2 linked regions of the Homo sapiens genome follow. The protein of the gene in region 1 interacts with the protein of each later gene in a pairwise test. Each region holds a gene or a part of one and is shown on either strand. Other genes may lie near its edges.

Evidence for each region.
Region 2: the proteins of CPAP (region 1) and LYST interact in a two-hybrid assay, tested with the Homo sapiens proteins (one study listed by BioGRID).

What each region holds. Positions count from the first base shown.
Region 1 is NC_000013.11:24,881,734-24,884,975, reverse strand, and holds the end of CPAP (centrosomal P4.1-associated protein), read left to right. Parts: intron 1-182; exon of another isoform or gene 183-273; intron 274-512; coding exon 513-653; intron 654-730; coding exon 731-815; intron 816-892; coding exon 893-1,013; intron 1,014-1,606; coding exon 1,607-1,799; 3' UTR 1,800-2,697; downstream 2,698-3,242. UniProt on the Homo sapiens protein: Plays an important role in cell division and centrosome function by participating in centriole duplication. Inhibits microtubule nucleation from the centrosome. Involved in the regulation of slow processive growth of centriolar microtubules.
Region 2 is NC_000001.11:235,804,307-235,808,065, reverse strand, and holds part of LYST (lysosomal-trafficking regulator), read left to right. Parts: intron 1-1,293; coding exon 1,294-2,323; intron 2,324-3,400; coding exon 3,401-3,562; intron 3,563-3,759. UniProt on the Homo sapiens protein: Adapter protein that regulates and/or fission of intracellular vesicles such as lysosomes. Might regulate trafficking of effectors involved in exocytosis.

The DNA of each region.
Region 1 (3,242 bases):
AGTTTTATTCTTATGCTTAGGAAAGTTTCTTAGTGGGAAAACTGCCTGGGGGTTCCAGCTAAAGGGAATGAGGAAGAAAGGGATATATACAGGTTAGAGGTGATGAGGGAATTTTTTCCTCAGGTTTATGGAAAATTTACTTTTCGAATACCTAATCTGGTCCATTTCTATTGAAATTATAGGGTTGGAGTGCTATCCTTGAGGAATGAGAGAAGGACAAAGAACAACAGGCAAAGCAGTAGTTAGACTTTCCTGTACAAAGTCTACTTTAGGGTAACAAATTGTTGATAAGGGAAGGTTTTCTTTTTTAGGTAAATTCCAGCTAATACATGGAAAAGGAATGAGAAAATTAGAAAATCACGAGTTTGCTACTCCTCACGAAATAAAGGATCTTTTGAGGGAATGTTTTACATTTTATTACAAAAAATTTCAAAGTAGGCAGTTGGGAGGAGAATTAGCCATACTTTCGTCAGGAGAAAATCTTAGGTGATAATCTTGTGTTGGTTTTTTAGGTGGAAAAGGTTTATAAGAATGGGTGCCGTGTTATACTGTTTCCCAATGGAACTCGAAAGGAAGTGAGTGCAGATGGGAAGACCATCACTGTCACTTTCTTTAATGGTGACGTGAAGCAGGTCATGCCAGACCAAAGAGTGGTATGTTTCCAGAGGTGTTCTCCTCCATAGTTTAACCATCTCTGGAGAAAAGGCAGACTGACTGTGTGTCTTTACAGATCTACTACTATGCAGCTGCCCAGACCACTCACACGACATACCCGGAGGGACTGGAAGTCTTACATTTCTCAAGTGGACAAATAGGTACAAACTTGCTCCACCCTCTCATTAAATTCTTCCCTTCCTTCAAAAAATATTTACTGTAACAACTTTTTAAACAGAAAAACATTACCCAGATGGAAGAAAAGAAATCACGTTTCCTGACCAGACTGTTAAAAACTTATTTCCTGATGGACAAGAAGAAAGCATTTTCCCAGATGGTACAATTGTCAGAGTACAACGGTATGGCAACATTATGTTCACAGAAAAACCACTCAGTGTGACACCTGTTCATCTGTGCTCAGAAGGTGCCCCAGCCTTGCGTTTCTGATGATATGTGACACCCATATTAGGGGGTTCAGTTTGAATGAATGTCCCACAGGCATGTCAGTCAACTTGATGTGAATTATTTTTCACATTCTCCTTTTTTGTTCCATTCTTTCAAAACAGATTTTTAAGTCTGATCATGCCCCTTCCCAGGAATAACTAACTCTCTTCCCCACCTGATACAGAGCAAACAAACACTCAGATGGTTTTTAAATTAGTGAAAGAAGGGTCCCTTTTAATATAACAACCAAAAGGAAGAACACAAGTTGAAAAAAGTTACTAAGCATTTTGTGATGAAAATATGAATGATTAAAACAATGCTAATCTGATAATTGGAACTATCACCATGAAGCAGAAACACTGTAGAAAGTTACAATTGTATAGGGATAACCAAGGGATGTCTCCAGAAGTAGCTGCCAGACTCAAAAGGCTACTTTTCAGTAGTTTTTCTGTTGTTTATTTTCTATTATTTTTTTTTTAAGAAATCATATTTTTTTTAAATTTTACAGTGATGGCAACAAACTCATAGAGTTTAATAATGGCCAAAGAGAACTACATACTGCCCAGTTCAAGAGACGGGAATACCCAGATGGCACTGTTAAAACCGTATATGCAAACGGTCATCAAGAAACGAAGTACAGATCCGGTCGGATAAGAGTTAAGGACAAGGAGGGTAATGTGCTAATGGACACGGAGCTGTGACGATCCTCATGTGATCATGAAGTAACAGTAACTGACTTTTTATGTTAAAAAATGTACATTTACTGTGGATTCTGTTTAATTTATTGTGTATGTGTGGGGAAAAGATTAGATTCTAAAATAAAAGTTTACCCTGTGGCATCTTCATTTTTATATTCTTTGAAATGCAATGATAGCTCTCATTTATAATTCACTACCCTGTCTTTCAATAGACTAAGGAAAGCATTTTGACTGTTTAGAAATTGTGTACAGGTTTTTACAGTAAGTGGGTGTGTTTATTGGTTAGAAATGGCTATAAAAAAAAACCAAGAAGTACAGGAAGTACATCACCTAGATGTCCCACAGACACATCAGCCGTAGAGCACTGGACTTGTACAGAAGGTGTACTCAAGGAGTAAACACGTGTCTCTGTAGCCAAAATATTACTATGTTCAGTTAGTACCAAAATTAGACCATTTGATCTTCTACAGAGGATCATTAATTATTATAACAGAATGGGAAGTTACAACAGTGGATGAATATAAATAGGTCACACACAACAGGTAGTAATCATGGTGAAGAGAAAGCAGTTATAACAAGGCTGACTTTGTAATGTAATGTCTCAAAATGGGATACTTGAGAGTGGAGGGGGGCATGAACGATGACTAGCCAGTGTTAACCCATGGACCACAGCTACCCTGATGTTACCACAGTGAGATTACTGTAGCCTCATGGAAGCAAGATGTCCCTGAAGGATGGGCAAGTCACTTACTTACTTACTTGTAAATTTATATAATAAATAATTACAGATTGGTCTAGATAGACCTTACCTGTCACATATACTATGAATCAGGTTTTGTTAATGAAATCTATCAATTCCAGGTGACTTAACTGAATATGAAAAATAAAACTTTTTGAAGAATATAAGTACAGATGTATCTATATATAGATGTATCTATATATCTATCTATATAGATGTATCTATATCTATCTATATAGATGTATCTATATATCTATATAGATGTATCTATCTATATAGATGTATCTATCTATATAGATGTATCTATCTATATAGATGTATCTATATATCTATATAGATGTATCTATATATATAGATGTATCTATATATCTATATAGATGTATCTATATATCTATATAGATGTATCTATATATCTATATAGATGTATCTATATATCTATATAGATGTATCTATATATCTAGATGTATCTATATATCTAGATGTATCTATATATCTATATAGATGTATCTATATATCTATATAGATGTATCTATATATCTATATAGATGTATCTATATATCTATATAGATGTATCTATATATCTATATAGATGTATCTATATATCTATATAGATGTATCTATATAGATAGATATCTAGATATATAGAGACGGGGTTTCACCATGTTGGCCAGGCTGGTCTCAAACTCCTGACCTCAAGTGATCTAGAT
Region 2 (3,759 bases), on another chromosome or scaffold:
CTTTATATTTCCTTGATAGAATATTATTGGCCATTGAAAATGTTTACAAAGATCATATTGGAATATGAGAAAATGATTATAATATCTTATGGGTAAAATATAAACAATTAAAATAGTGTTCACTTATTTACAACTATGTAAAATATGTATTACATGTAAAATAATACATAAAATGATTATTGAGGCAGAGGCACTAATGGGATTATTAATTTTAAAATATTATATTTACATTTATAACCTCTGCAATATATGTAGAAAAATTAGAAAATATAGATAAACAAAAATAAGAATATTAAAATTACTTTTAATCCTATCAGTGAGTTTTCCAGACTTTGTGATTGCCAAATCTGGTGCATTTAAAAATAATTTTATAAACGAATGGGTAGACTGGTCTTTCAAATTAATGCATATACCATTTTAGAAACTTATACAAAAATAACCTATCAATATCTTCGTGTGTGGCATTTTTTGGTCAATCTTAGCACAACTACTTTAAAACTATTATTGATGTTAAATCAATGCCTTACAGTCATTTAAAAATTTTTCTGACATTTTGGCATTGTTTAACTAGAACTGACTGATTTGAAAGTTTTGTAACTCTTTGGCGTATTCGTGGACAACCTGAATCTTTGTGATGAAAGGGCTGAGAATCACCTAGCTGGCTTATATTAAAGTTATTACTAGGATTCCAATGATCTAGACACAAGTCTCACCTGAGACAGAGCTGAAAAACTTTTATAATATTTGTACCATTGACTGTTCAATTAGCCCAATTAGAAGGGAAATTCATGTGATGCTGAGCCTTCCGTAGATTTTCAGCTCTAGTGTGATTCTTTCCCTTCATAAGGTATAGATTTAAAGTAAACAAAAATTCCCAAGTGAACCATCAGGCGGACAAACTAATGAACAAACACGTGCTTGCCTGCCCTCAGGGTGTCCACCTCAGGTGTGGTGGTGGCTGTGGTGTTCAGAATTTATATAGAATTTGCCATTTGGAGAAAAATATTCTTCCCTGAATTGCTTCATTTAATGTGGGACAGGCAATCTTTTCTTTTTAGATACTGCTGGAGCCATATATACAAATGTTTGAAGAAGGATATCAGAGTAATTAGAAAGTAACTTGAGGTCCTAATTATATCTAACTAAGAACTTTAGCCTGATAATTGATGAATAAAATTAGGTAGTGGTTAGTATATCCCACATGCAATAGCGATATATTAAATATTATATGTACCTATTTATAAATGATGTTTCTTTATTTAAACCTTTTTACATGCTTTTTTTCTTTCACAGGGTAATAAGAGATTTGTTTTTGAGTTGTAATGGAGTAAGTCAAATAATCGAATTAAATTGCTTAAATGGTATTCGAAGTCATTCTCTAAAAGCATTTGAAACTCTGATAATCAGCCTAGGGGAGCAACAGAAAGATGCCTCAGTTCCAGATATTGATGGGATAGACATTGAACAGAAGGAGTTGTCCTCTGTACATGTGGGTACTTCTTTTCATCATCAGCAAGCTTATTCAGATTCTCCTCAGAGTCTCAGCAAATTTTATGCTGGCCTCAAAGAAGCTTATCCAAAGAGACGGAAGACTGTTAACCAAGATGTTCATATCAACACAATAAACCTATTCCTCTGTGTGGCTTTTTTATGCGTAAGTAAAGAAGCAGAGTCTGACAGGGAGTCGGCCAATGACTCAGAAGATACTTCTGGCTATGACAGCACAGCCAGCGAGCCTTTAAGTCATATGCTGCCATGTATATCTCTCGAGAGCCTTGTCTTGCCTTCTCCTGAACATATGCACCAAGCAGCAGACATTTGGTCTATGTGTCGTTGGATCTACATGTTGAGTTCAGTGTTCCAGAAACAGTTTTATAGGCTTGGTGGTTTCCGAGTATGCCATAAGTTAATATTTATGATAATACAGAAACTGTTCAGAAGTCACAAAGAGGAGCAAGGAAAAAAGGAGGGAGATACAAGTGTAAATGAAAACCAGGATTTAAACAGAATTTCTCAACCTAAGAGAACTATGAAGGAAGATTTATTATCTTTGGCTATAAAAAGTGACCCCATACCATCAGAACTAGGTAGTCTAAAAAAGAGTGCTGACAGTTTAGGTAAATTAGAGTTACAGCATATTTCTTCCATAAATGTGGAAGAAGTTTCAGCTACTGAAGCCGCTCCCGAGGAAGCAAAGCTATTTACAAGTCAAGAAAGTGAGACCTCACTTCAAAGTATACGACTTTTGGAAGCCCTTCTGGCCATTTGTCTTCATGGTGCCAGAACTAGTCAACAGAAGATGGAATTGGAGTTACCTAATCAGGTAATACCTTGTCCTTAGTCCAACTCTTATGTAATATATATACATATATATACACACACACATATATATATAAAAAATGTAATATGTATTACATAATATATGTAATATATATATTATTGTGTTATATATAACATATAATATATTACTTTTATATATGTGTATATATTATGTTTTATGTATATATACACATACACACACACACATTTTATAAGTGTCAGATGAATAATAATGGATATTGTGTTTCAAAGTTGAAAGATCTAAATTTTTGTGTGATACTGTTGGCTGCCCTGCCCAGAACTCCTTTACCAAACTGATCACCCATTCACCATCTGCGCATCAGCACCCATCTTCCAGGAATCACCCTTGACCGATGGAAGATGCCTGGGAAGGATGCTCATAGCTAATGCTGATAGATGTGGCTCTAAGAAGTGGGGACAATCATTGTGGGGCACTTCAGGCTCCAGAGCTTCCCAGGAAATGAGGCTGGGACGAGACTTCTCCTAAAACCACATCTTTGTCCAGATTCTTCTCCTAACCTCTTCTGCTTTACCTCACATTCTTACAAGTTTTCTCCTGAGATCATTTCTCAACTAAAAAGGAATCTAGGGACCTGGAATATGGCAGACCTCTTCTGTCCTCACTAACTTACACCTAACTGTTCAGTCAGCCAACAGGCTCTTCCTACTTCAGTTCCAGCCTCCATGTTGCCTTATCTCTAAAAAATCCTGATGCTTCCACACTGAATTTCCACAATTGAAATTCACAAGCTTTAACACAGCACACAAAACTCTTCAGTCTTGCTTTGACTTCTTCGCTTAGCTTCATTTCTTGCCATTCTTTACCATGCTGCAATGAAAACCAAATAAGATGAACTAAGTATTTTATCAATAAAAATGTTATTAATTTTAACAGGATGTTTGTATAGAGCTAGATATTTATATAGTCATTTTGCTTTCATATCAACTGCAAATAAATGGATTAGCTTTATACTTAAGTAAATATTTATTATTTATTTTTTCATCATTTAGTTTTTTAAAATGGTTATTAATATTCTTAGTCTCTTTTATTTTACCTTAGAACTTGTCTGTGGAAAGTATATTATTTGAAATGAGGGACCATCTTTCCCAGTCAAAGGTGATTGAAACACAACTAGCAAAGCCTTTATTTGATGCCCTGCTTCGAGTTGCCCTCGGGAATTATTCAGCAGATTTTGAACATAATGATGCTATGACTGAGAAGGTATGAATAACAACATATAGTTGTGTTCTTTGGGTATGACCAGCAGAGGCGGAAGTGTGGGATGACACTAGGACGCTGATGAATGTCATTAGAGCATATGGACTAGGACTTGGTCAGATGAGTTCAGTGGATCTTATCTCCTCGTGATGGATATGTGATGGGATGGACAGTATTTTGTCATTGCCCTGTCTTATACA